Regions from separate parts of the Homo sapiens genome. Here regions 1 and 3 are each linked to region 2. A link means that fine-mapping ties the variant in region 2 to the plasma level of a protein whose gene starts in the linked region. Region 2 holds a variant in brackets. A gene starts in each other region. All regions are shown on their reverse strands. Distances are between the middles of the regions.

Region 1 (8,171 bases), not on the chromosome of region 2:
GAGGCCCCTGGAGCCAGGCAGCCCTTTACAGACCCTATCCAACTTCCAGACCTGCCGAGCCAGCTCCCAGCTCCTTCCCTCATGCGTGTGCGCTTACTGGGTGCTAGGCACTGTGTTTAGCACCATGCTCAGACGGGGAGCGTCGCAGGCCTTCCTTGCCTAGTGGTGGAAGGAAATGTTAACCATAGGGTTGCAGGGAAACGTAGCGTTGCTGCGGACACGGGCTCAGCAAGGCCTCTGCAAGTGTGCGGTGAGAGCCCCTCTGGGGTTCAGGAAAGTCTTCCCAGGGAAATGATGCTGGCCTGGGTAACTATGGTGAGTAACTACTATGCAGGAGGGCAGGAATGAGGAGCATGCACAGTCGCTCCAGGCAGAAGAATGGCATGAGCAAAAACAGTGCCATGGGAAGGAGCATTGTCCCCTTTGAAAACTGAGAGAAGGGCCGGGTGCAGTGGCTCACGCCTGCAATTGCAGCACTTTGGGAGGGCGGGCAGATCACTTGAGGTCAGGAGTTCGAGACCGGCCTGGGCAACGTGGTGAAACCCGGTCTCTACTAAAAATACAGAAATTAGCCTGGCATGGTGGTGGATGCCTGTAATCCCAGCTACTTGGGAGGCTGAGGCAGGAGAATCGCTTGAGCCTGGGAGACGAAAGTTGCCGTGAGCTGAGATTGCACCATTGCACTCTAGCCTGGGCAAAAAAAAAAAACGGTCTCAAAAAGAAAGAAAAGAAAAGAAAAGAAGAGGGGAGGGGAAGGAGAAGGAGAAAAGAAAAGAAAACTGAGAGAAGACAAAGTGATGGGAGCAGAGAGCTGTGTAAGAAGAGGCTAGAAAGGTGGGTAGCACCAACAGTGCTGGGCCTTAGTTCTTATCCTAAGAAATTTCCATCCTCCTTTCTTTGCTGGAAAGAACAGCCACTAGCCCTGTGAGGCTTTGCAGTTGACAATCCGTCCTTGGCATTAATTTTAACACCCTGTGAGGTCTAATAATTTTCTTAAATGAGGGAGATGAAGCTCACAAAAATTAAGTATTTTGCACACAGTCATTAAGTGGTAAAGCAGGAACGTGAACCTATTTGCACTCTATGCATTGCCACAGTCAGTACCAAAATTAAGCATGAGCAAATGGATAAGCTGTATCAATGGTCACCACATGTTTTATTCAAAAAGAATTCTGTAATTCCATTTAAGTATTAATAATCTGTATAGAAGTCAGTCAAAAAATGTGCACCATGTGACATGAAATGCTAATATCCATTTTCCTCCAATTCTACAGCATGCATTGTCAATGGGAAGAGAGGTAAATTGCTCCCAAGGGGGAAAATATTGGTTCTTGGAGAGCTAAAAAATTTTAGATATTGCAATGACTAGTGGCCTACCAAGGTTCAACCCTACCCAACAAAATCTTATTTCTTAGCATTTGATTTCTCTCTTCAGGAAGAAATTAAATTTAGTTTTCAGTTCATTTTATTTTTTCTCAGAGCAAGGTGAAATGTGGGGGGGTGTGTGTGTGTGTGTGGGTGCACATGCGCGCACACACGCATGCAGTGCTGAGTCCATAATGAAAAAAAACGTTGAGAAACATTGTTTTACAATAAGGAAATCTCCAATCTTTAGCTAGTCAACCAAAATAAAGATGACGTTTCTTAACTTCCCCTACAACTAGGTGTAGCCATGTGATTAAGGCCTGCCTCCATGGGAGGTGATAGAAAATGATGGGTGCAACTTCTAGGATGTCTAAAAAGGAGGGACATGCCCTTTTTCTGCCTTCTCATCATCCTATACCTGGAAATTGGACATGGTGGCAAGCCACCTTTGGCCATGTGCATGAGGGCAGCAATCTAGAGATGGTGACAACACAAGAAAGGAGAAGCCTGGAAGACCTCATGGGAAAGAGCCACTATCCAAGTGCTAATCCACCTACATCTCTCAGGGAGAAATAAGCTTCTATCTTAGCCACTGTTTTCTGTTGTTGTTTTTTTTTTTTTTATTTTTCCATAAGTTATTGGGGTACAGGTGGTATTTGGTTACACGAATAAGTTCTTTAGTGGTGATTTGTGAGATTTCGGTTCACCCATCACCCAAGCAGTATACACTGCACCCTATTTGTAGTCTTTTATCCCTCACCCCGCTCCCACTCTTCTCCACAAGTCCCCAAACTCCATTGTATCATTCTTATGCCTTTGTGTCCTCATAGCTTAGCTCCCACATACCAGTGAGAACAGATGATGATTGGTTTTCCATTCCTGAGTTACTTCACTTAGAATAATAGTCTCCAATCTCATCCAGGTCACTGCTAATGCCGTTAATTCATTCCTTTTTGTGACTGAGTAGTATTCGATTGTGTATATATAAACCACAGTTTCTTTATTCACTCATTGATTGATGGGCATTTGGGTTGGTTCCATGATTTTGCAATTGTGAATTGTGCTGCTATAAACATGCATGTGCAAGTACATTTTTCAAATAATGACTTCTTTTCCTCTGGGTAGATACCCAGTAGTGGGATTGCTGGATAAAATGGTAATTCTGCTTTTTAGTTCTTTAAGGAATCTCCACACTGTTTTCCATAGCGGCTGTGCTAGTTTACATTCCCACCAGCAGTGTAGAAGTGTTCCCTGATCACCAAGTCCACACCAACATCTGCTGTTTTTTGATTTTTTGATTATGGCCATTCTTGCAGGTGTAAGGTGGTATCACACCGTGGTTTTGATTTGCATTTCCCTGATCATTAGTGATGAGCATTTTTTCATATGTTTGTTGGCTATTCGTGTATCTTCTTTTGAGAATTGTATATTGATGTCCTTAGCCCACTTTTTAATGGGATTGTTTGTTTTTTACTTAATGATTTGTTTGAATTCATTCTAGATTCTGGATATTAGTCCTTTGTCAGGTATATAGATTGTGAAGATTTTCTCCCACTCTGTGGGTTGTCTGTTTACTCTGCTGACTGTTCCTTTTGCTGTGCAAAAGCTCTTTAATTAGGTCCCAGCTATTTATCTTCATTTTTATTGCATTTCTTAGCCACTGTTAATTTGGGTCTCTTACATGCAACTGACCCCTTATTCTAACCAATTTATTAGTTTAAAAAATAATACTGTAGCAGGAATGATACAGAATGAGCTTACCACTAGTAGAAAATGACCTGGTCCCAGAGGAAATTAAGGTGCTTTAAGTTGTTAAGTGGGCAATATAAGAAAATATCAATGTAGCCATCTATTATACAGAAGAATATGCCATAAATAGTAAGGGAATTTGAAAAGTATATTATTTATCTGGACTTTAATATTTCCCATCTGGAAACCACATCTCCAACCTTTGTTGTATAACATTAGTATATTCATTATATAACCTATTCTTCACACAGGTGAGCAACTGTGAATGTGCCAAAGGCTATCAGTGTTGCTAGTTTCACATCCCTTACTATAAACCACCCATTTATGTGAAATGGAAATAAAAACATGCAGAAATTCCCTTGGATCTGAGACTAGGGTTTCCCCCAGCACAATCAAGTTTGTGGTCAATTTAGTTAGCTCAGCTAAAGATACTAGCCAATCAGAGTTTAGGAGAGAAATGAATATCCTAAATAAATATGATCCCCAAAATGTGTTCTCTAAAGAATTTCTCAGGCTCAAAATCCAATACAGGAGTGACTTGGAACTCCATTCTATCACTATGAAGAAAAGTGGTGTTCTTTTCCTCTTGGGCATCATCTTGCTGGTTCTGATTGGAGTGCAAGGTAAGGGGTTCTGAGTTAGGTTGTAAAGTAAGAGAAGTGATTCACTGTAAAAGAATCTTGATTAGCCAGATAAAGGTGAATGTTCTGCCTGCATTGAAGAGTAATATTTGGTCAGTCATAAAAGCTTCTCAGTGACATGACCAGTTATCCAAAGTTCATAACTTCGATCTGCCAAGTCAAACACAAGTCTTTGTAGTCTAGGTGTATGAATTCCTAGTAAGTGTTCAATAAATGTTCATTGAACTGGGTAATAATGAGAACTCTATCTCCTAAATTATTTTCTTCTCCCTGATACTGTTTTTTGCTAAGTATATCTGTGGCTAACCAATTAAGGATCCAACCAATAATCAGAGAATTTGTCCCTAATCTATTTACTAACTATCTTTGTTACCTTGGACAAATTACTTAATCTTTCTAGACCTCAGTTTCCTCATCATCTGTAAAATAGAACTTTGTAGTTATACCTTTTCTGACTGCTACACAATGTATGGCATATGGTACAATAAGTACCAAGTAAATATATGAATTTAAGAATTAAGATAATGTATTTTAAGGGGTTTTCAAAAATTTAAAACACTATTGAAAAGCAAGGCAGTGGGGAGGAGAGAGGATGAGGATGAAAGTGGTGATTGGTTACAAAGGAGTGCTTTCTATTCAACACCAACACCAGTTCCATTCCTTAAGGTCAGATAATAAATAATAGATGGTTTAGGAGTTGCTTAAGAAACTGTGATCAGCATAGCATACATGAATTAGTTATCTGTTTGTCTTGTGATAGGCATTTATTAAATATTGTGAAAGTCTCTTTTTCTCCCACGGACTTACGGTGTGGTAGTTAAGAGCAACGCCTTTGGACTCAGAGAGATCTGGGCTAAAACCCTGCCCCTGCTCCCTAAAAGCTGTATGACTTTGTTCTTAATCTTTCTGAACCTTAGTTTCCTTATGTATAAAATAGAGATGATACCTCCTTCAAAGGTTTGTGGTGATTATTTTTAGGCACTCGGTAAATGATAGCAATAATCATGACTCAGTCAAGTGTATCATTTTGATAGATCACCTAAACTGAAACATTGGCCTATACTGATGTGTTCTATCTTTTTCTTTCCCTCAGGAACCCCAGTAGTGAGAAAGGGTCGCTGTTCCTGCATCAGCACCAACCAAGGGACTATCCACCTACAATCCTTGAAAGACCTTAAACAATTTGCCCCAAGCCCTTCCTGCGAGAAAATTGAAATCATGTAAGTAACAACCCAGCTAACATGCATGCACCATATTGGCAAGAACATTAAATTTAGCATGAGTTTTACCCTTGGAGTGCTTGCCCATACAAACACTTAAAAATCAGATGGTTACCCCCTCCATAAATTTGGGCAGCTCCTTTCTTTTCTTCTCCTTAAAAATGCAAGGAATTTCTGGTAGATTAGGCCCCAAGAATGACACATGTTTATTGTACAAAATGTTTAATGCAGGTAACACAATAGAAGAAAATAAAAATCACGCATAATTCTACCCTTGAGTGACAAATACTGTTAACCCCTTAGTATACAGTTTTCTAAATCTTCCTTACTTGCTTCGTGTGCACATAACATAGATATGTTTTTACATACACGTATATAAGCACAAAAATTAAATCATATACTATACACTGTTTTGTAATCTGCTTTTTCATTAACACTATATCATGAACATTTTCTCGTGTCAGTAAATCTCTAATAATGTCATTTTTACTTAATGTCATTTTTAATGGCCAAACTGTATTTCATCATATGGATAAACCATAATTTATATGACCAGGATTATTGTTGGAAATATAGATTATTTCCAAATTTTTACTGCTGAAATAAAACTTACTGTGGCAGTATTGTGTCTGTAATTCTTTCCTTTCTAGAGATTAGGATTGCTAGGTTGAAGGATGTGTGCATATTTTGTCTTTATAAGTCATCCTTGACTACTCTTATTCTCAGACTATACAGAAAAATTAAAGGAACATTTAAATTATTTCCAGACAGTCTACTGTAAGTAATTTTTAAAATTTAACCAGGGCCGGGTGCAGTGGCTCACACCTGTAATCCCAGCACTTTGGGAGGCTGAGGTGGGCAGATCATGAGGTCAAGAGATTGAGACCATCCTGGCCAATGTGGTAAAACCCTGTCTCTACTAAAAATACAAAAATTAGCTGGGCGTGGTGGCGCATGCCTGTAGTCCCAGCTATTCGGGAGGCTGAGGCAGGAGAATCGCTTGAATCCAGGAGTTGGAAGTTGCAGCAAGCTGAGATCGCACCACTGTACTCCAGCCTGGCAACAGAGCGAAATTCTGTCTCAAAAAAAGAAAAAAAAAAAAATTCAACCAGTGACTCATCTTGTCCTAGGAAATAATTTTAAGTAGTTTCATTAGAAAATTCAGCACAATTCATACTGATTTTCATTATTTCTGAGAAGAAGCATTTAAATTATTAATGAGAAAAAACTATCTCATTGCTATTTCTTTGGCAGTGCTACACTGAAGAATGGAGTTCAAACATGTCTAAACCCAGATTCAGCAGATGTGAAGGAACTGATTAAAAAGTGGGAGAAACAGGTTGGTGAAAAGGAAGATCAAAATTTTCTTTCTTTTAGAAATTAACTTTAGAAGACAAAGAATCTGCTTTTTCATTAACACTATAAGAATACATAACTTTTAAGAATACATTTTTCATTCATATTATGGTGCTTCTATTTTGTTCCTAGGACAAAATTAGGTTCCTACATATAGTATCCCCTCTCTGTCTCCCACTGGAAGAATGTGTGTTCCTTGGGGGTACAGAGCTTGTCCTTATTTAATACAATAAATATGTAATGAATTGAATGGTAGACACAGGATACAAAGATAATAAGGTATAGTCCCTTCCTGTTGTAGTGCATATGCTAATAATTATGGTACAATGTGAGAAATATAAAAGTATGCACAAGAATCTTGACGACATAGAGGAGGGAGTACTTAACTTTGCTGGGGGAATGGGGCAGGAGAAAGTGTTAAGGAAGATTTCTCATGTCAGGTGATATTTGATTTGGGTCTTGAAGGATAAATAATTTGCCAGGAAGGTAAGGACAGCATGAGCAGAAGAGTAGAATCATGAGAGAACCTGCTGTGTTCAGGGAGCCTCCATTAATGTGGCTGGAGTTTGTGTGAAGAGAGTGAAGGGACTGAGGCAGAAAAGTAGATCAGGACAAAGCGGGAGGAATCCTGCATGGCATACTAAGGAGTTGGATTTGAAGAGAGCCACAGAATATGTGGGTGGGAGATTGGGTTCTGGAGTCTCACAGACTGGAGGTTCTGCCACATACTAGCTGTCTAGATTTGGGAAAGTCACCCTCTCCAGAACTCAGCCTCCTCCTATGTAAAACGTGGATGATAATAGTGCCACCTTCAGAGGGTTGTAGCTGGGGCAGGTGAGTGGTAAGCAAGGTTGCCAGGAGAATGTAATAAGCCAGAAGAATAGACAAAAGACAGCCAGTTTGAAGGCTGTTGCCTCCTCCTCAAAGTGAGCAAAGTAGAGAGAATCTAAGGGAGCCCCTCTGAGAGTGAAGTGACTTTAATGTGGTTTTGAGACTATGTGGGTATGAGACAATGATCAGGAGAGTCCAAATAAAAGGAAGTAAAAATGGTAAGATTCAGAAACATTGCCCTTTTTCCCCTTCTTCTCACAGGTCAGCCAAAAGAAAAAGCAAAAGAATGGGAAAAAACATCAAAAAAAGAAAGTTCTGAAAGTTCGAAAATCTCAACGTTCTCGTCAAAAGAAGACTACATAAGAGACCACTTCACCAATAAGTATTCTGTGTTAAAAATGTTCTATTTTAATTATACCGCTATCATTCCAAAGGAGGATGGCATATAATACAAAGGCTTATTAATTTGACTAGAAAATTTAAAACATTACTCTGAAATTGTAACTAAAGTTAGAAAGTTGATTTTAAGAATCCAAACGTTAAGAATTGTTAAAGGCTATGATTGTCTTTGTTCTTCTACCACCCACCAGTTGAATTTCATCATGCTTAAGGCCATGATTTTAGCAATACCCATGTCTACACAGATGTTCACCCAACCACATCCCACTCACAACAGCTGCCTGGAAGAGCAGCCCTAGGCTTCCACGTACTGCAGCCTCCAGAGAGTATCTGAGGCACATGTCAGCAAGTCCTAAGCCTGTTAGCATGCTGGTGAGCCAAGCAGTTTGAAATTGAGCTGGACCTCACCAAGCTGCTGTGGCCATCAACCTCTGTATTTGAATCAGCCTACAGGCCTCACACACAATGTGTCTGAGAGATTCATGCTGATTGTTATTGGGTATCACCACTGGAGATCACCAGTGTGTGGCTTTCAGAGCCTCCTTTCTGGCTTTGGAAGCCATGTGATTCCATCTTGCCCGCTCAGGCTGACCACTTTATTTCTTTTTGT
Region 2 (8,182 bases):
GTGCAGGTTTTTTGCATAAGTAAATTTGTGTCTCGTGGGTTAGTTGTACAGATTATTTTGTCACCTAGGTCCTAAGCCTAGTACCCAATACTTAGTATTTCCTGCTCCTCTCTCTCCTCCCGCTCTTCTCCTTCAGGTAGGCCCCAGTGTCTGTTGCTCCCATTTTTGTGTCCATGAGTTGTCATCATTTAGCTCCCACTTGTAAGTGTGAACATGTGGTATTTGGTTTTCTGTTCCTGTGTTAGTTTTCTAAGGATAATGGCCTCCAGCTCCATTCGTGTTCCTGTAAAAGGCATTATCTCATTCTTTTTTATGGCCACATAGTATTTCATGGTGTATATGTACCACATTTTCTTTATCCAATCTGTCATCGATAGGCATATAGGTGATTCCAAGTCTTTGCTCTTATGAATAGTGCTGCAATGAACATTCACATTCATCTGTCTTTATGATAGAGTAATTTATATTCCTCTGGGTATATACCCGGTAATAGGATTGCTGGGTTGAGTGTTAGGTCTGTTTTTAGCTCTTTGAGGAATCACTGGACTGCTTTCTACAATAGATGAACTAATTTACAGTCCCACCAACAGTGTGTAAGTGCTCCCTTTTCTCCACAACCTTTCCAGCATCTGTTATTTTTTGACTTTTTTAAAAATAATAGCCATTCTGGCTGAGATGAGATGGTTTCTCGTTGTGGTTTTGATTTACATTTCTCTAACTATCAGTGATATTGAGCATTTTTTCATATGCTTGTGGGCTGCCTGTATGTTTCCTTTAGAAAAGTGTTTGGTCATGTCTCTTGCATACTTTTTAATGGAGTTGTTTTGTTTCTTGTAAATTTGTTTAAGTTTCTTATAGATGCTGGATATTAGACCTTGATTTTTGTCAGCTTTGTCAAAGATCAGATGGTTGTAGGTTTGGCCTTATTTCTGGGCTCTCTATTCTGTCCCGTTGGTCTATGTGTCTGTTTGTTTGTTTGTTTGTTTTGTTTTGTTTTGTTTTCACCAGTACCATGTTGTTTTGGTTACTATGGCCCTGAAGTGTAGTTTGAAGACAGGTAATGTGATGCCTCCACCTTTGTTCTTTTTGTTTAGGATTACCATGGGTATTCTGGCTCCTTTTTGGTTCTATATAAATTTTAAAATAGTTTTTTAACAGTGCTGTGAAGAATGTCATTGGCAGTTTGATAGGAATAGCAATGAATCTGTAAATTACTTTGGGCCATATGGCCATTTTAATGATATTGATTCTTCCGATCCATGAGCATGGAATGTTTTTCCATTCACTTGTGTCATCCCTGATTTCTTTGAGCAGCATTTTGTAATTCTCAATGTAGAGATCTGTCACCGCCCTGGTTGGCTGTATTCTTAGGTATTTTATTTTTTGTGGCAATTGTGAATGGGATTGTGTTCCTGATTTGGCTCTCGGCTTGGCTCTTGGTGTATAGGGATGCTAGTGATTTTTGTATTTTGATTTTGTATTCTGAAACTTTGCTGAAGTTGATTAACAGAGAAGGAGCTTTTGGGCTGAGACTATGGGGTTTTCTAGATACAGAATCATGTCATCTGCAAACAGGGATAGTTTGATTTCCTCTCTTCCCGTATGGATGCTCTTTATTTCTTTCCCTTGCTTGACTGCTCTGGCCAGGACTTCCAATACTGTGTTGAATAGGACTGATGAGAGAGGGCATCCTTACCTTGTGCTGGTTTTCAAGGGGAATGCATCCAGCTTTTGCCCATTCAGTATGATGCTGGCTGTGGGTTTGTCATAGATGTCTCTTATTATTTTGAGATATATTCCTTCAATACCTAGTTTATTGAGAGTTTTCAACATGAACGGTGGTACATTTTTTCAAAAGCCTTTTCTGCATCTATCAAGATAATCATGTGGGTTTTGTCTTTAGTCACATTTATGTGATGAGTCACATTTTATTGATTTACATATGTTGAACCAATCTTACATCCCAGGGATGAAGACTATTTGATCATGATGGATTAGCTTTTTGATGTCCTGCTGGATTAGGTTTGCAAGTATTTTGTTGAGGATTTTTGTATCAGTGTTCATCAAGGATATCAGCCTGAAGTTTTTATTGTTGTTGTGTCTCTTTCAGGTTTTGGTATCAGGATGATGCTGGCCTCATAGAATAAAATGGGAAGCAGTCCCTCTTCCTCAATTTTTTTTGACGTTTCAGTAGGAATGGTACTAGCTCTTCTTTGCACATCTGGTAGAATTCAGCTGTGAATCTATCTGGTCCTGGCCTTTTGTTTCTTAGTAGGCTATTCATTACTGATTCAATTTTGGAGATCATTGTGGTTCTGTTCAAGGAATCAATTTCTTCCTGGTTCTGTCTTGGGAGGGTGTATGTGTCCAGTAATTTATCCATCTCTTCTAGATTTTCTAGTTTGTGTGCATAGAGCTGTCTGTAGTAGTTTCTGATGGTTATTTTTATTTTTGTGGGGTCAGTGCTAACATCCCCCTTGTCATTTGTAATTGTGTTACTTTGGGTCTTCTCTCTCTTTTCTTCTTTATTAGCCAGGTAGCAAACTATCTGTCTTATTAATGTTTTCAAAAAACCAACTCTTGGATTTGTTGATCTTTTGAATGTTTTTTCATGTCTTGACTTTCTTCATTTCAACTCTGATTTTGGTTTTCCTTGCCTGCTGCTAGTTTTGGAGTTGATTTGCTCTTGTTTCTCTAATTCTTCAAGTTGTGATGTTAGGTTCTTACTTTGGGATCTTTCTTTTTGATGTGAGCTTTTAATGCTATGAATTTCCCTCTTAACACTACCTTAGCTGTGTCCCAGAGATTCCAGTATGTTGTTTCTTAATTCTCTTTAGTTTCAAAGAACTTCTTGATTTCTGCCTTAGTTTTATTATTTACCCCCAAGTCATTCAGGAGCATGTTGTTTAATTCCCATGTAATTGCATGGTTTTGAGTAATTTTCTTAGTCTTGGCTTCTATTTTTATTGAGCTGTCGTCTGAGGGTGTTTTTGGTATAATTTTGGTTCTTTTGCATTTGCTGAGGATTGTTTTATGTCCAATTATGTGGTTGATTTTTAGAGAATGTGCCATGTGATTATGAGAATAATATATATTCTATTGTTTGGGGGTAGAGAGTTCTGTGGAGGTCTATCAGATCCATTTGATCCAATGTTGAGTTCAGGTCCTGAATATCTTTGTAAGTTTTCTGCCTCAATGATCTGTCTAATACTGTCAGTGAACTGCTGAAGTCTCCCACTATTATTGTGTGGGCATCTCAGTCTCTTTGTAGGTCTCTAAGAACTTTCTTTATGAAGCTGGGTGCTCTTGTGTTGGATGCATATATATTTAGGATAGTTGGTCTTGTTGAATTGAACCCTTTACCATTATGTAATGCCCTTCTTTGTCTTTTTTGGTCTTTGTTGGTTTAAAGTCTGTTTTGTCTGAAATTAGGATTGCCACCCCTGCTTTTTTCTGATTTCCATTTGCGTGGTAGATTCTCCTCCATCTCTTTATTTTGAGCCTTTGGGTGTCATTACATGTGAGATGGTTCTCTTGACAACAGCATACAATTGGGTCTTGCTTTTTTATCGAGCTTGCCACTCTGTGCCTCTTAAGTTGGGCATTTAGCCCATTTACATTCAAGGCAAGTATTGGTATGTGTGAATTTGATGCTCTGATTGTGTTTTTATGCTGGCTTGTTTGTGTGGTGGCTTTATAGTGTCACTGGTTTGTGAATTTAATTGTATTTTTGTATTGGCTAGTAGCCCTCTTTCCTTTCTATAGTTGGTGCTCTTTTCAAGATCTCTTGTAAGGCAGGTCTGGTGGTAACAAACTCCCTCAACATTTGCTTATCTAAAAGGGATCTTATTTCTCTGTTGCTTAGGAAGCTTAGTTTGGTTGGATATGAAATTTTTGGCTGAATATATATATATTTTAAAATGTTGAATATAGGCCCACAATCTCTTCTGGCTTGCAGAGGTTCAGCTGAGAGGTATGCTGTTAGGTTGATGGGGTTCCCTTTGTAGATGACCTGCCCTTTCTCTCTAGTTGCCTTTAACATTCTGTCTTTCATTTTGACCTTGGAAAAGCTGATGATTATGTGTCTTGGGATGATCTTCTTGTGTAGAATCTGGCAGGGATTCTCTGTATTTTCTGAATTTGACTGTTGGCCTCTCTAGCAAGATTGGGGAAGTTTTCATGGTTGGTATCCTAAATTGTTTTCCAGATTGTTAGCTTTCTCCCCATCCCTTTCAGAGATGCCAATGATTTGTAGATTTGGCCTTTTTTCCCCATATTTCTTGTAGGTTTTGTTCATTCATTTTCCTTCTTTTTTCTTCATTTTTGTCAACTGTCTGATTGCAGAGAGCTAGTCTTCCATTTCTGAGATCCTTTCCTCAGCTTGGTCTATTCTCCTATTAATACTTGGATTGCATTGTGAAATTCTTATAGTTTGTTTCTCAGCTCTCAGCTCTGTCAGATCCGTTAGGTTCTTTTTTTATACCAGCAATTTAATCTTTCAGCCTCTATATTATTTTATTGTGATTTTTAATTTCCTTGAATTGGATTTTGCCATTGTGCTAAATCTTGATGATCTTCATTTGTATCCGTAGTCTGAATTATATTTCTGTCATTTGAGTTAGCTCAGTCTTGTTAAGAACCCTTGTTGGAAAACTGGTGCAGTTGTTTGGAGGACATATGACCTTCTGGCCATTTGATTTATTGGAGTTCTTAC[G/A]TTGGTTCTTTCTCATGTCTCTGTGTGGGTGTTTCTTTAACTGCAGTGTAGATTGAGTACAGCCAATAGACTTCTTCTTTGGAGGTTTTCACAGGGCCAAGGCCTTGTACAGGGTCTTTATTTGTAGCTGACTTCTTGTCTTTGGTTTCATAGTGGGGCATGTTAGCAAAATAGTTTTGCTGTTGAAGTTTTGGGGTGTGATCCATTTTTTATTTTAATGATTGTGTATTTCCTTTATACCTAAAACAAGCAGAAAACCAGTAAAGGTCTTTGAGTCTCTGAATTCATAACTCCAGCATTCATATTGCTTCCTCAGGTAAGTGGGGTTTTCACCCAGCCCTTAAGGGTGTTAGATTATTTTTTATGTGAAATTAGCCAGATTGTATTTCTAAACATGATGTAAAACAATAATGACAAAAGTTATAATAAACTAGCCTTCTTACCAAATCCACATGTCTAATGTGTGTGGGAGGGTGTTAGGCAGGGGACCTGCAGCTAAGGGAGAGGCAGACAGGCCCCATGGCCCCAAATCTAGGATAGTATTTGGTATTGGTTGATGGGTGAGAGAAAGAGAGGGAACATCTGTGCAGGATGTGGTATCAGCACCTGGACTACATCTTAGGGATTCCTTCTTCATTTTTCAGTATGCCCTGACAATAATTATATCTATCAGACTTACCCCCTTGACCACTGGAACACTAAGACTGTTTTGGGATCTCTGCCTGACTTTCTCAGAGGTGCTGGTGAGGACATTATGAGTCTGGAACCTAGAAAAGCGTTCTGACTCTGCTGACTTTCTCAGAGGTGCTGGTGAGGACATTATGAGTCTGGAGCCCTAGAAAAGCGTTCTGACTCTGCCACTAGCCAGACAGACCTGGACTAGGCACGTTAACTCTTTGTATGACTTGACTCCAACCCCTCATTTGTAAAACCAGCATTTTCAAGTGGTGTTTTCCACATCAGCCTTTTGCATAAGCTGTCATTTGAAGAAAGGTTTTTGTTTGTTTGTTTTTTGTTTAACAAAAAGGTTAAAAACCACTGGTCTAGATAATTGCAAAGTTTGCTTTCCTTTTTCTGTGCTTTTTCTACTATTTTTAAAATGTCATCCTCCTTGGTTTCTTGATCCCCCTTTCTGCACTCCTGAGTCTGGGAACACTGAGGCCAACTAAAAGGAAACTTGGCAAAAGAGGAACACCTTTGGGTGTGCCAGGCTGCTCCCAGTGTTTTGCACTTATAAAAATTTAAATGCTGCAAACCTCTAAGACTTAGATATTATTGTTCCTATTTTACAAGTGAGGAACCTGAGGCTCAGAGAAGGTGCAGGATGGCACAGGGAGACCTGAATTGGAACCCTGGTTCCCACTTACTGGCTGTCGGGACTTAGAAAAGTCATGAACTCTCATTGATTGTTTTCTTATATGAAATGGGGGCTGCAGGGTTGTCGGGGGAGAAACAATAAGAATGTGCATCAAGTGTCGAGCACGTGCTACGCACTCCATCATGGCAGCTCCTACTAATATACAGAATAGAGTTGTATCTAACATGACTCTTTCTTGCAAGTGACAGAAAATCCAACTTAAGATGGATTAAGCAAAAAAGGGGAATTCTTGTTGAGCTGAAAAGTCTTTAGGCTCACATGATGGCCCCAGGGCCCAGGCCCTGTCCAGCCATGCAGTAGGCATCATCCTTGGGCACAAAGGTGAGATTCTTGTGGTGGCAGATGCTGTGGCAGCTCTTGCTTTGCCAGGAAAGACTGAGGAAGGCCACTGTCCCCATTAAGTGAACAATAGTTGGCCAGGTCTGAGAGGTTGAACTTGGGTCACAGGCCTGTCCCTGAACCCATCACTGATTGGCTCCAACCTGCATCAGCTATTACATGCTAGAGGTGGAGGCAGGACCCCACTCATACCCAGAAGGGCAAAGGGTGGATCCCTCAACAGGATTATGGGATGTAGGGTGATAGACTGCTGGGCAGCCAGAAAGCAAACAGATCCTCTCCAATACCTCAACTGATGAAAGCACCAAGCTAAAATCATAAGGATCTGGGTGTGAATTCTGGCTCTACCATCTTCCATGTGACATTGGGCAGTTATTTAATCTCTTTTAGCCTTGGCTTTCTTACCTGTACTAACATATAAGGTGATTGTGATGAGCATCATCATCGTCAACATCATCATCACCATCCACATTGCCACCACCACTCCCATTATCATCTTCATCAACATCATCACCACCGCCACCATCACCATTATCATTACCACCACCGCTATCACTATTATCATCACCCTCAACATCATCACCATCATCACTATCATCACCACCACCATCATCGTTACTACCACTACCACCACCATCATCACCACAGCCACCACCACCATCACCATCATTACTACTCAGCACCACCATCATCATTCCACCACCATCACCATCATTCCACCATCACCATTATCATTACCACCACCACTGTCACTATTATCATCACCCTCAACATCATCACCACCACCATCATCATTACTACCACCACCACCACCATCACCATCATCATCATTCTACCACCATCACCATTATCATCACCATCACCATCACCACCGCTATCATCATGATAATCATTATCATTACCACCACCATTAGCATTATCATTACCACCACCATCACTATCACTATCACCATCACCACGACCACTACCACCATCACCAACACCATCATTACTACCCACCACCACCATCATCATCATTCCACCACCATCACAATTATTACCACCACCACCATCACCACCACCACCACCATCACTATCATCATCAGTAGACATCATATAACCAGTTTGTAGCTGGCCCAGAGCCTACTTGCTGTTTCTTCTGCCCCACAACCATCCACACATTTCTAACCACCATCCCCCACTAGGCTTCTGCCTCGCCTGGTCTCACCTGCAGGTCCACTGAGAAAATGATTCTCAGAACACTAACTAGACCATGAGGTGCCACAAAACATAACTCAGGCCTGTTCATCAATTTTCTACATGTCAATAATGACATCAGGTCAATTGGCGTTCTCAGCCTCTGAGAGGGAGGTCAAAGTTTTCCTGCTCTCCCCTTCATGTTTCCAGGTGTTCCCTGACTTGGATCAAATGCAGAGTTTGGAGGTGTTGAGGCCAAGGGGATTTTCCAGGTCAGTCGTCATCCACAATCAATGGACTGATCCTGCCGCTGGACTTACCCTGCTGCCCTCTCCCCAAGGCCCCATCAGGGAGGGCTTCAATCCTCTTGTCACCTGTGGCCTACCTGCCCTCAGAGATGACATCTCTATGTCGGCCACTGGATGGCAGCACCTACTCGCAGACCACATCAACTTTCCTGGCAACTTGCGGTAGGTTTTCACCATTATCAGGATGTTTGCCTTGCTCAAATAGCAGATTCTAGAGAACGGTGCTCCCTCACACAACTATGTAGTCCAGGTGATGCACCCTCTGCC
Region 3 (8,174 bases), 34 Mb after region 2:
AGTTTGACCTTGAGTTTCTGGGCATTTAAAGAGGACCTCTCTACCCTCCACTCCTTCCTCCTTAAGTCATACTGCACCTGCCAAGAGTCTAGTCTGTCTCCTCCGAGGACGCAAGGGGTCGCCCCTCTACCAGGATTGCACCAGCAAACCAAGCCGCAAACGCAGACTCAAGTGCGAAGGAGCAAGAGCATCGCTGTGGGTGCTGTCTCCCAGTCCCACTCCCACAGAAAAATTGGAATTGCAACCCAGTTCCACTATTCCTTCTTTCATCCCCTCAACACAAACAGAGGTCTCCTTTGACTTGGCCTTGAGATGATTAAGGCAGGTCGAAAAGCAGTTTGCCTTTTGACTCCTCTCGGCCCAACCTAGAGGTGCATCATCCCACAGCTCCCTGAGGCAGCGCCCGGGGAAAGCTTCCTGCGCCGTGGTCCTCGCTGGGGGAGGTGGGCACAAAAGGACTACAAGCTTTCTTTCCTGTGTCTTCCTTCAGAATCAGGGGCCCCAAAACTGCAAAGCGAGACGCCTCTGACACTCAGTACCCTGTCCCTCCTTGACAAGTGTGTGGCTCCCAGCCCGGGGGTCCTCGGTGGGGGTAAAGGAGAGAGCGTGCTCTGGGACGCCCAATGGGCACGGGCTGGAAGAGCGGATGGAAAGCAGAGTGGGTTGCGCTCCAGCCCGGGCTCCCTATGCCCACTGACCCTGAGACTCAATTCCCCAGGCCAGACCCTGGGAGGAGAGGAGGCGGGGACCGCCAGGCGCGTGGACACCGCTGAACCCCAGGCCTCCCCTTCCGCGTCCGGGCCGGAATGAAAGAGTGGGTGGGGAGTTACCAGAGTACACACCATTCGGAGGCCAAGAATAATAAATCGGATGCCCTGACATATTTAGTTTGGGCTCTCCTGCCCCCTGCTAGGTGATCCTAAAGGCGGTGAGGCCCGGCCAGGGCCCCTGTCGCTCTGGCACTGCCACCTTTTTAAAAGGCAATTTTCAGGTGAATCAAACCTTGTCTGGCCGAGGCCAGCAATACAAAGGGAGCTTTCAGGGGACCCTCATGCCCAGGGGCAGGGCAGGGACAAACAGCGGCCGAGAAGCGATTACTAAATTTCCATCTCACACAAGCCGGTGTTGTGTCCTCCGCGCTGCCCCGACGTCTGCCCCGAAAGGCTTCCCGGGCGGGACGCTGGGAGAGGGATCCCCTTGGGAAACCAGGTGGGGCCGCTGGGCCTGGGCTGCACGCCGCGGAGGTGCGAGAGCCCAGAGCAGCAGCATCGCTTCCTGCCCCTCGCGAGCTCCAGGAGAAGTTTCCTCCTCCCTCTCTCCACCAGCGCCCCCAACCATAGAGCCAGGGTCGCCCCTGCTCTGAGATCTGCGAAAGGACTCCCCATGGGAACACAGACACTAGAGCAGCGAGGGCGCCAGGCTACCCTGGAGCGAGGAGAGGTGACACCTTCGCATCTGTCCCTTCATCTTGGGAAGATTCTACCTTTCAGACAGACCAACCCAGGTTGAGGCTGCCGTGGTGGTGTCCGCTTAATTCCAGCTAGGACACCGTCTTAAGAAGCCATCACAATCCAACCCTCCAAATAACAGCATTAAGGGCAGCGAGGAGGCGAATCTTTAGGGAGACCCCACTCTCTGTACGTGTGTGTCCCAGGGGACACACTTGAAAGGGCCAGAGATGGTACAGACGCTCACATGTGACAAGAGAGAACCTGGAAACTCCGCACCTCCGGCTCCCCACAGCTGGGGTTTTGCTGTCTTCAACCCTCGGGCGGGGGACGTCCGGCAGCTCTGCAAACGCGCAGACACGCGAACCCCATCGCCTCGCGCGCCCTTTGGCTCCGCTGGTGCGTGTCGGGGATGCGGCCGCGCAGGCGCTCGCTCCCTGGCTTCCTGGCCGGGTAGCGGGCGTTCGGCTACCGGAGTCCAGCCTAAGGGCCCAGCCGAGGTCTCCCCGCGCGAGGCGGTTGCGCTAGGTGAGCGGGTACCGCGGCCGCGCCTCCCTTGTCATTTACTCAGCGGTCAGAGGCATCCTGCGTCTGGGAGTCCCAAGTGCCTTCGGCTGGGTGCCCCTGTCCGATCCTCAAAAGGAAAGCACAAATCCCGGGTGCGAGTCTAACCCAGGACCGAACTTTCCCGCGAACCTGAAGTTACCATGGGGCGGGAGCCACCTTAGCGCCGCGTCCGCCCGCCCCTCGCACCGGCTAGGATGCTGCGGAAGGCAGGGGCGCCGAGAGGCAAGGGTGAAAGACGCCGTCCATACCCCCAAAGCCCGAACCTGCATCTCCTCTGCGAGGCGCAGGGCGGGAGGACCGCTGCAGTTGGGAGCCGGCTCCGGACAGGCAAAGCGACCCGACAGGTGAACGCGGCGGGAGGGAGCAAACGCGTAAAAAACCCTGCACTTACTTCTTCGCTGGCGCCTTCCCCGGGAGGCGTTTTGGCTGCCGATGTATTCCATAAAGTTCAAAATGATAAAAAGCCAAGAAATCAGTCGCAAGTGCATAGTAACCCAGTAATGCTTCCCTTCCTTTCTCCTCTTTCTTTTGATTGTTAATTATATTTAATGTTTTTAAAATATATGTAGGTGTTAGGCGTATATAGACAGTGCCCGAGCAGCGGGACTTCTCCTCTCACATCCGATAGGCGTGCTGTGATGGCAAGCGAAGTGGGGCGGGTGGACAGGGAAACCAACTATTGTACTTTCAAATTATCCAAGCACTGAACTGCGGCGGCTTCGCTGGGGTGGCTGGCATCGCCGCGAACCGGGGTTCCAGGAGCCGCCGGGGCGGCCGCAGGTAGCATGTTGTGCGGCAACTGCCGCAGGCGGGATCCGGGCGGGCGAGCGGCGGCGGCGGCGGCTGCAGCGGCGGCCCCTTGGGCTCAGAAGCTGCGGCGGCTGCGGCTGCAGCGGCGGGGGCCCCTGGAGCGCAGGGGAGCGGGCGCCGTCGGCACAGCGGCCATGGCCAAGGGGCGGCGGAGAGACCCCGAGCTGCTTCTGGCGTGCGCGAGCAGGAGACGCTCCAGTGTTGGGCTGGGCTCCCGGGAGCACCACATAGGGGAGGAGGAGGAGGAGGGCAGGGAGGGGGGAGGGAGAGGAGGGCAGGGAGGGGGAGAGGAGGGGGGATGGCTGTGGGGGGCGGGGGGGAGCTCGGGGGCGGGGAAGGAAACTGCTGGAGCAACAACCCTGAGCGACCTCAATAACTTTCAATTTCAAGAGGGAAAGAGGGAGCTGGAAAAGTACAGGCGTTGCGCTTTGGCAGAGGGACGGGAAGAGGCGCCTAAGGGGTCCCGGGTCTACAGCGCAGCATCTCTGGACACTGCAGTGACGGCCGGAGAATTCCAGCCAGAAGAATGGGGAAAGCAGTGCGTGCGAAGAGCCCCTCCAGAAGGGCAGCTCTGGCGGGGAGACTTGGGCGCACTGGGGCTGGCAGGCAGTGTTGAGGCCGAAGACCCCCCACCCATCCCAGTTCGGCTCCTCTCCGCGGCCTCAAGCTAGGCGCACCCGGCTGTCGGTGGCCGTGCGCCCCTGCGCCCTTGTGCCCCAGCGCCCCCACCCCATCCCCAGCGCCGGCGCGCAACTACCCTCTCCCCCTTGGCAGATCGCTGGAGAGTTTCTGGCTGCTGACTTGTTCCCGGCTTTCCTGACCTTCTCCTCTGTTGCCTTTCTCCCTTTTTCTTTTTCTCTCTCTTTCTTTCTTTCTTTCTTTCTTTCTTTCTTTCTTTCTTTCTTTCTTTCTTTCTTTCTTTCTTTCTTTCTTTCTCTTTCTTTCTTTTCTTTCTTTCTTCCTTCCTCTTTCTTTGTCTTTCTTTCTTTCTTTCCTTCCTTCCTTCCTTCCTTCCTTCCTTCCTTCCTTCCTTCTTCTTTCTTTCTTTCTTTCCTTTCTTTCTTTCTTTTCGGCTGCAGTTGGTCGCCAGGCGGGTGGTGGGGAGGAAACTCTGTGGGTGCTGCCGGTCAGCTACTCTGAGGTTTACCTGCTCCGAGCGGGGAGGACCCAGAAGTGTGTGCGCTCAGGACCTTCCCGTTGGAAATGCAGCTGTGCTACGGCTTTCTTCCAAACCAAGGCTTTTCTGTGGCTTTGGAAGATTCCTTTCCCGCTCAGGCAATTCCCTCTATAGTCAGCTCGCCCCCCTTGGAGTTTTCTCTCCCACCCTCGGTCTCCCAGTGTTCTTGAGAGGATCTGTTGTACATTCTAATCTCGCATCTGGAAGACTGGGAATAAGATTTGGAAAGATTTTCCCAGTCTTGGGGAAGGAAGGGGAAGGTCCACTACTTTCTTATCTTCCCAGCCCAAGTGGAGGCCCAAGGCAGCAGAGAGTAAGATGCTCTGGCCCACCCAGGGATGGGAGAACAGAGGGCCGGCACCCCTGAGTGGGGCACACCCTGGCTGTCGTTAGTAAATGGTGAGCTTTCCACGTCTTTTCTCCGGTAGCACCAGCCGATGAACTTTTCAGTAATTACTGAAGAAGTATTTAGTCGAAAGTCACAAGCCTCAAGTGATTTTAACATAAGCCTGCCCTATGTATTATATTTAACAGAATATCTGAAGGACTACACTAGCACTACAGGTTAACACAGCAGCAAACTTCTGGGAGGTCACTTTGAAAGAGTCCCTGATTCATAGGTGCTTTGCTAATTTTTGTGCTCAAATAATTCAGTGTAAGTCAATTGCTAAAGCCTTGCAGAGTAGCAAGTGACACTTGCACTTCTATCTCCTTCCTCCATTTGTAATCCCTATTACTGGATTGCCTTCAATTTATGTAAATTAGGTAAATTTACATGAATTAGAGCATTTTGTAAGTTTGCAATGCTGTGAATTGTATGTCTCTGGAGTCCTTTAGTGGTATATTTGTTATACATCCCAAAAGTAGGATAGAGGCGATAAAGTGGCCTGGATGCAAAAGGAAGGGAACTTGAAATATGCATTATTTTCAAGATGCTAAAAATTAGAATCTGAGAGATGGCCTTTTGATGTTAATTCTTTAATTAAATATCATTTATTATTTTGCATGCTCGTGTTGGAATTTCGAAAGTAGGCATAGTCTCCTTTAGGTTTGATATTATGAGGAAGATGACACCTCAACAGGATTATGATTTTTGCCTTCTTTTTAAGAGCTCCCATTTACAACATCCCTCTTTCAGTGGTAGAACTTTTTCTGTACATTGTATGCACATGTGTGTGCACACCCCCACACACAGACTTTCCATCCTTTATCTGTTGCAAAGTGTCTACTTATAAATGACTGAGTTTATCACTTTGAACCAGCGAAGTTACAGATAACAAGACAATTCCAATAATGATTATCCAAAAAAGAAGCCACTCTATTTTACTGTGCCTGTCCCCATCTGCTTTGCTTTCCTTCTTGCTAATACCTCAAATCCTGAATATCTGCACCATAAAACATGGGGGATTTAAAGACTATGGGAGGCTCCCTTTGAAAAGGACTCCAGAGACAGCCTTTCTAATCTGGGATACTTGAGCCGGATGGGATGAGATTGCAAAAGGGATGTGAAAAAGCTATTTGATGAACAACTTCAGGGAAATAAACATGAAGAAAGACATTTACTTTTCACTGTGCATTGTGCAGACACATGTTAGTTTGGATGAGAACAGGAATGGCAGTGTAAGTAAATAAACAAACCAAATGAGAAGCTACAGTTCTTGAGCCATCCCAGAAAAGAAGTGCTAGATGCAGTGGGAAGGAAAAGCTTGTCAAGGAATAAGCTCTGCTCAGAGGAAACATAAGGAAAACATTAAATAAACGAGGAGAGTATTCTTTCTCTCTTGATGCTGTGCTTTAGAATAACTTTTTCCTGATCCATATTACCGTCATATTAAATGTGTGTTTACTTGCCTGGCTGAGTTTTACGTTCCCTCAACTGTCTTAGAAGCTTATGAAAAGCATGCCATGGCATATTTTCTAAAACATAGTACCTTTTTTTTTTTCTTCAAACAAGAAAACAACACTCACAGTAGCCTGTGGCTGCCAGTGGATTTCAGAGCTCAAGCCTAAAGAAAGTTAAAAACCATAGGCTCAGCATAGAGGTCAACATTTGCTTATTTTTCTCCAAAACACATTAGTTCCAGGGAGTTTTGGATAACCAGGAGACTGGGAGACTTGGGCCAGGAGAATAGAATAGCTTTGAACAAAGATAGGAGGCTAAGCATATCCCGACTAGATACTGCAACTTCTCATCTCTCCTTCCACTTATTCCAACCAGGCAGTGACAACAGTAACAAGTTATTTTTATCCATTGCAGCAGTGGCACTCTAAGGAAAGAAAATGATTGTCATATTGTTGAATCCATACTGCAAATATGTGAAAGGGGGTGTGCTCCAGAAAGAGAGAGCAAGCCCAATAGTTTGGAAAGGGATATAACTAGTAGTGATGAGAGATGTTTGGCAAAGTTGGGGCTGACATCAGTCATTATACCACAGAGCGAATATGCAGATTCTGAAAATGCACAGCTCTCCAGTTACTCAGATCTGGATGCATCTGAGTCAGTAAGTCAAACAGGGTACTGCTGGTGGGATGTGTGTAACTGATGCAGCTAGAAGTCATCCCTGAAATACAGAGTGGGTAGCAGCATTTAAACACCATTGAAATTAGTAGATGATGGAAAACTATTTTTAGAGAGAGAAAGAAAGGAGACAGAATTATTGTAGCAATTTAAAAAGTGATTATATGGTTATATAGCATTAAGAAAATGAGAAAATCAAGACCCATGATGGATTACTTTCTGTCAACAAGAAAGAATGTTCTTCCTCCCAGATGAAGTTATGGGACATTTATGTAATTGTGGCAAGCACCATCTGGTATATGCCTAAGTTTAAAACTTATTTCACAAATCAATTGATTGCTGGGCTCACTTAAAATGTGAATATCCAATAGTACTCAATATAAAGAATTTAACAGCTCAGAAAATTTTGCATGATCATGGAGCTTTAGTACAAAGAGGCTGTATGTTGTAGTAAGAGGGCACTAAATTGTGAATCTGGGGATCAAGGTGAGTCCTTGTTTTCTACTTATATTGTTGTGTGTCAGGTTTCTTCATCTGAAAAATGAGGAAATTGAACTAAACCATTTCCAAAGTTCCTTTCAGCTCTGACAATAATGTAACTATTTCTAAGAAAGAAAGACAGACTTGTAATTGCAAATGTCAGAGCTATTTCTAGTTGTGTGACATCACAGCTTTTACTTACAGAATTGTGTTTAATTGAATAGGTCCAGATTTAGAAATCTGCTTTCAAACTTGTTGATTTTCTGGAAATGCCTAACCCATTACAAGAATCCTAGATGACTCTGGCCCAGCAAAGATAAATCCAGGACAAGTTCAATCTGTCTAGATGTCTGCAGACTTTGGGACAACCAGAAAGAACAAATTATAAACTCGAGATTCTAGGCAGAGTCCTACAGAGAGCAGGAAAAAGGACTTCTGCATCTCATAAAGAGAGCACTCATTTAGACCTGTTTGTAGGAATCACAGATGAGGGAGGAATGTGGATCTCACTAAGAGCCATTCTTTTTATCTTTATGTTATTACTTTCTTTTTTGGAATAAAAAGTTGGAAATAAAAGTCACATTTTATTTTTCCTATTCTTATCTTTGGATGAGGATTTATATCCATGTACCCTTCATCCCAGGAACCTCTTCTGAAGTTCAACAGTGAAGGTTGAGTGGTTGTGGTCACAGATTTAGGTTGAAGGGTTACTATCAAAGACATGAAAGTATAAGTTGTAGGCTGGGCACGGTAGCTCACGCCTGTAATTCCAGCACTTTGGGAGGCTGCGGTGGGCAGATCACGAGGTTAGGAGATTGAGACCATCCTGGCTAACACAGTGAAACCCCATCCCTACTAAAAATACAAAAAATTAGCCGGGTGTGGTGGCACGTGCCTGTAGTCCCAGCTACTTGGGAAGCTGAGGCAGGAGAATCGCTTGAACCCGGGAGGTGGAGGTTGCAGTGACCCAAGATTGCGCCACTGCACTCCAGCCTGGGCAACAGAGCGAGACTCTTTCTCAAAAAAAAAAAAAAAAGTATAAGATGTAGAGTGCTAGATGAGGGATAATACCAATGAGTAATTTTTGCAGCTTCTTTTACATGTATTATCTCAAAACATTGTCTCATAGATGAGACAACCGAATCCAGAAAGATAAAGTCACTTGCTTAAGCTT

Direction of the effects. Alleles are on the strand shown, and positions count from the first base shown. The strength of an association depends on the size of the effect and on how common the allele is.
In carriers of allele G in region 2, the plasma level of the protein whose gene starts at base 3,614 in region 1 tends to be higher than with A alone (weak association).
In carriers of allele G in region 2, the plasma level of the protein whose gene starts at base 3,025 in region 3 tends to be higher than with A alone (weak association).

The links. PIP is the chance, under the fine-mapping model, that this variant and not a neighbour inherited with it causes the effect. Protein levels are from antibody-based Olink assays in UK Biobank. Linkage for the fine-mapping came from a reference panel and not from the study's own genotypes, which makes the PIPs less certain.
Region 1: it holds the start of CXCL9, and the variant in region 2 is fine-mapped to the plasma level of the CXCL9 protein (UK Biobank, PIP above 0.99).
Region 3: RSPO3 starts here. The variant in region 2 is fine-mapped to the plasma level of the RSPO3 protein (UK Biobank, PIP above 0.99).

Annotation. Positions count from the first base shown.
Region 1 is chr4:76,002,952-76,011,122 of GRCh38, reverse strand. CXCL9 (C-X-C motif chemokine ligand 9) reads left to right here and starts at 3,614. Exons shown (of 4, transcript NM_002416.3): 1 at 3,614-3,737; 2 at 4,849-4,975; 3 at 6,230-6,314; 4 at 7,424-8,171. The coding sequence starts at 3,674. The coding sequence ends at 7,525. SDAD1-AS1 (SDAD1 antisense RNA 1) reads right to left here. Exons shown (of 3, transcript NR_125906.1): 3 at 5,181-6,050. RefSeq lists an enhancer at 1-3.
Region 2 is chr6:160,667,939-160,676,120 of GRCh38, reverse strand. No RefSeq gene overlaps it. Among named protein-coding and RNA genes, the nearest start is that of LPA, 7.8 kb to the right of the region's middle. The variant G/A (reference allele first, on the strand shown) is at 4,715.
Region 3 is chr6:127,113,522-127,121,695 of GRCh38, reverse strand. RSPO3 (R-spondin 3) reads right to left here and starts at 3,025. Exons shown (of 5, transcript NM_032784.5): 1 at 2,407-3,025. The coding sequence starts at 2,503. LOC105377989 (a long non-coding RNA gene) reads left to right here. Exons shown (of 14, transcript XR_002956387.2): 4 at 1-2,795.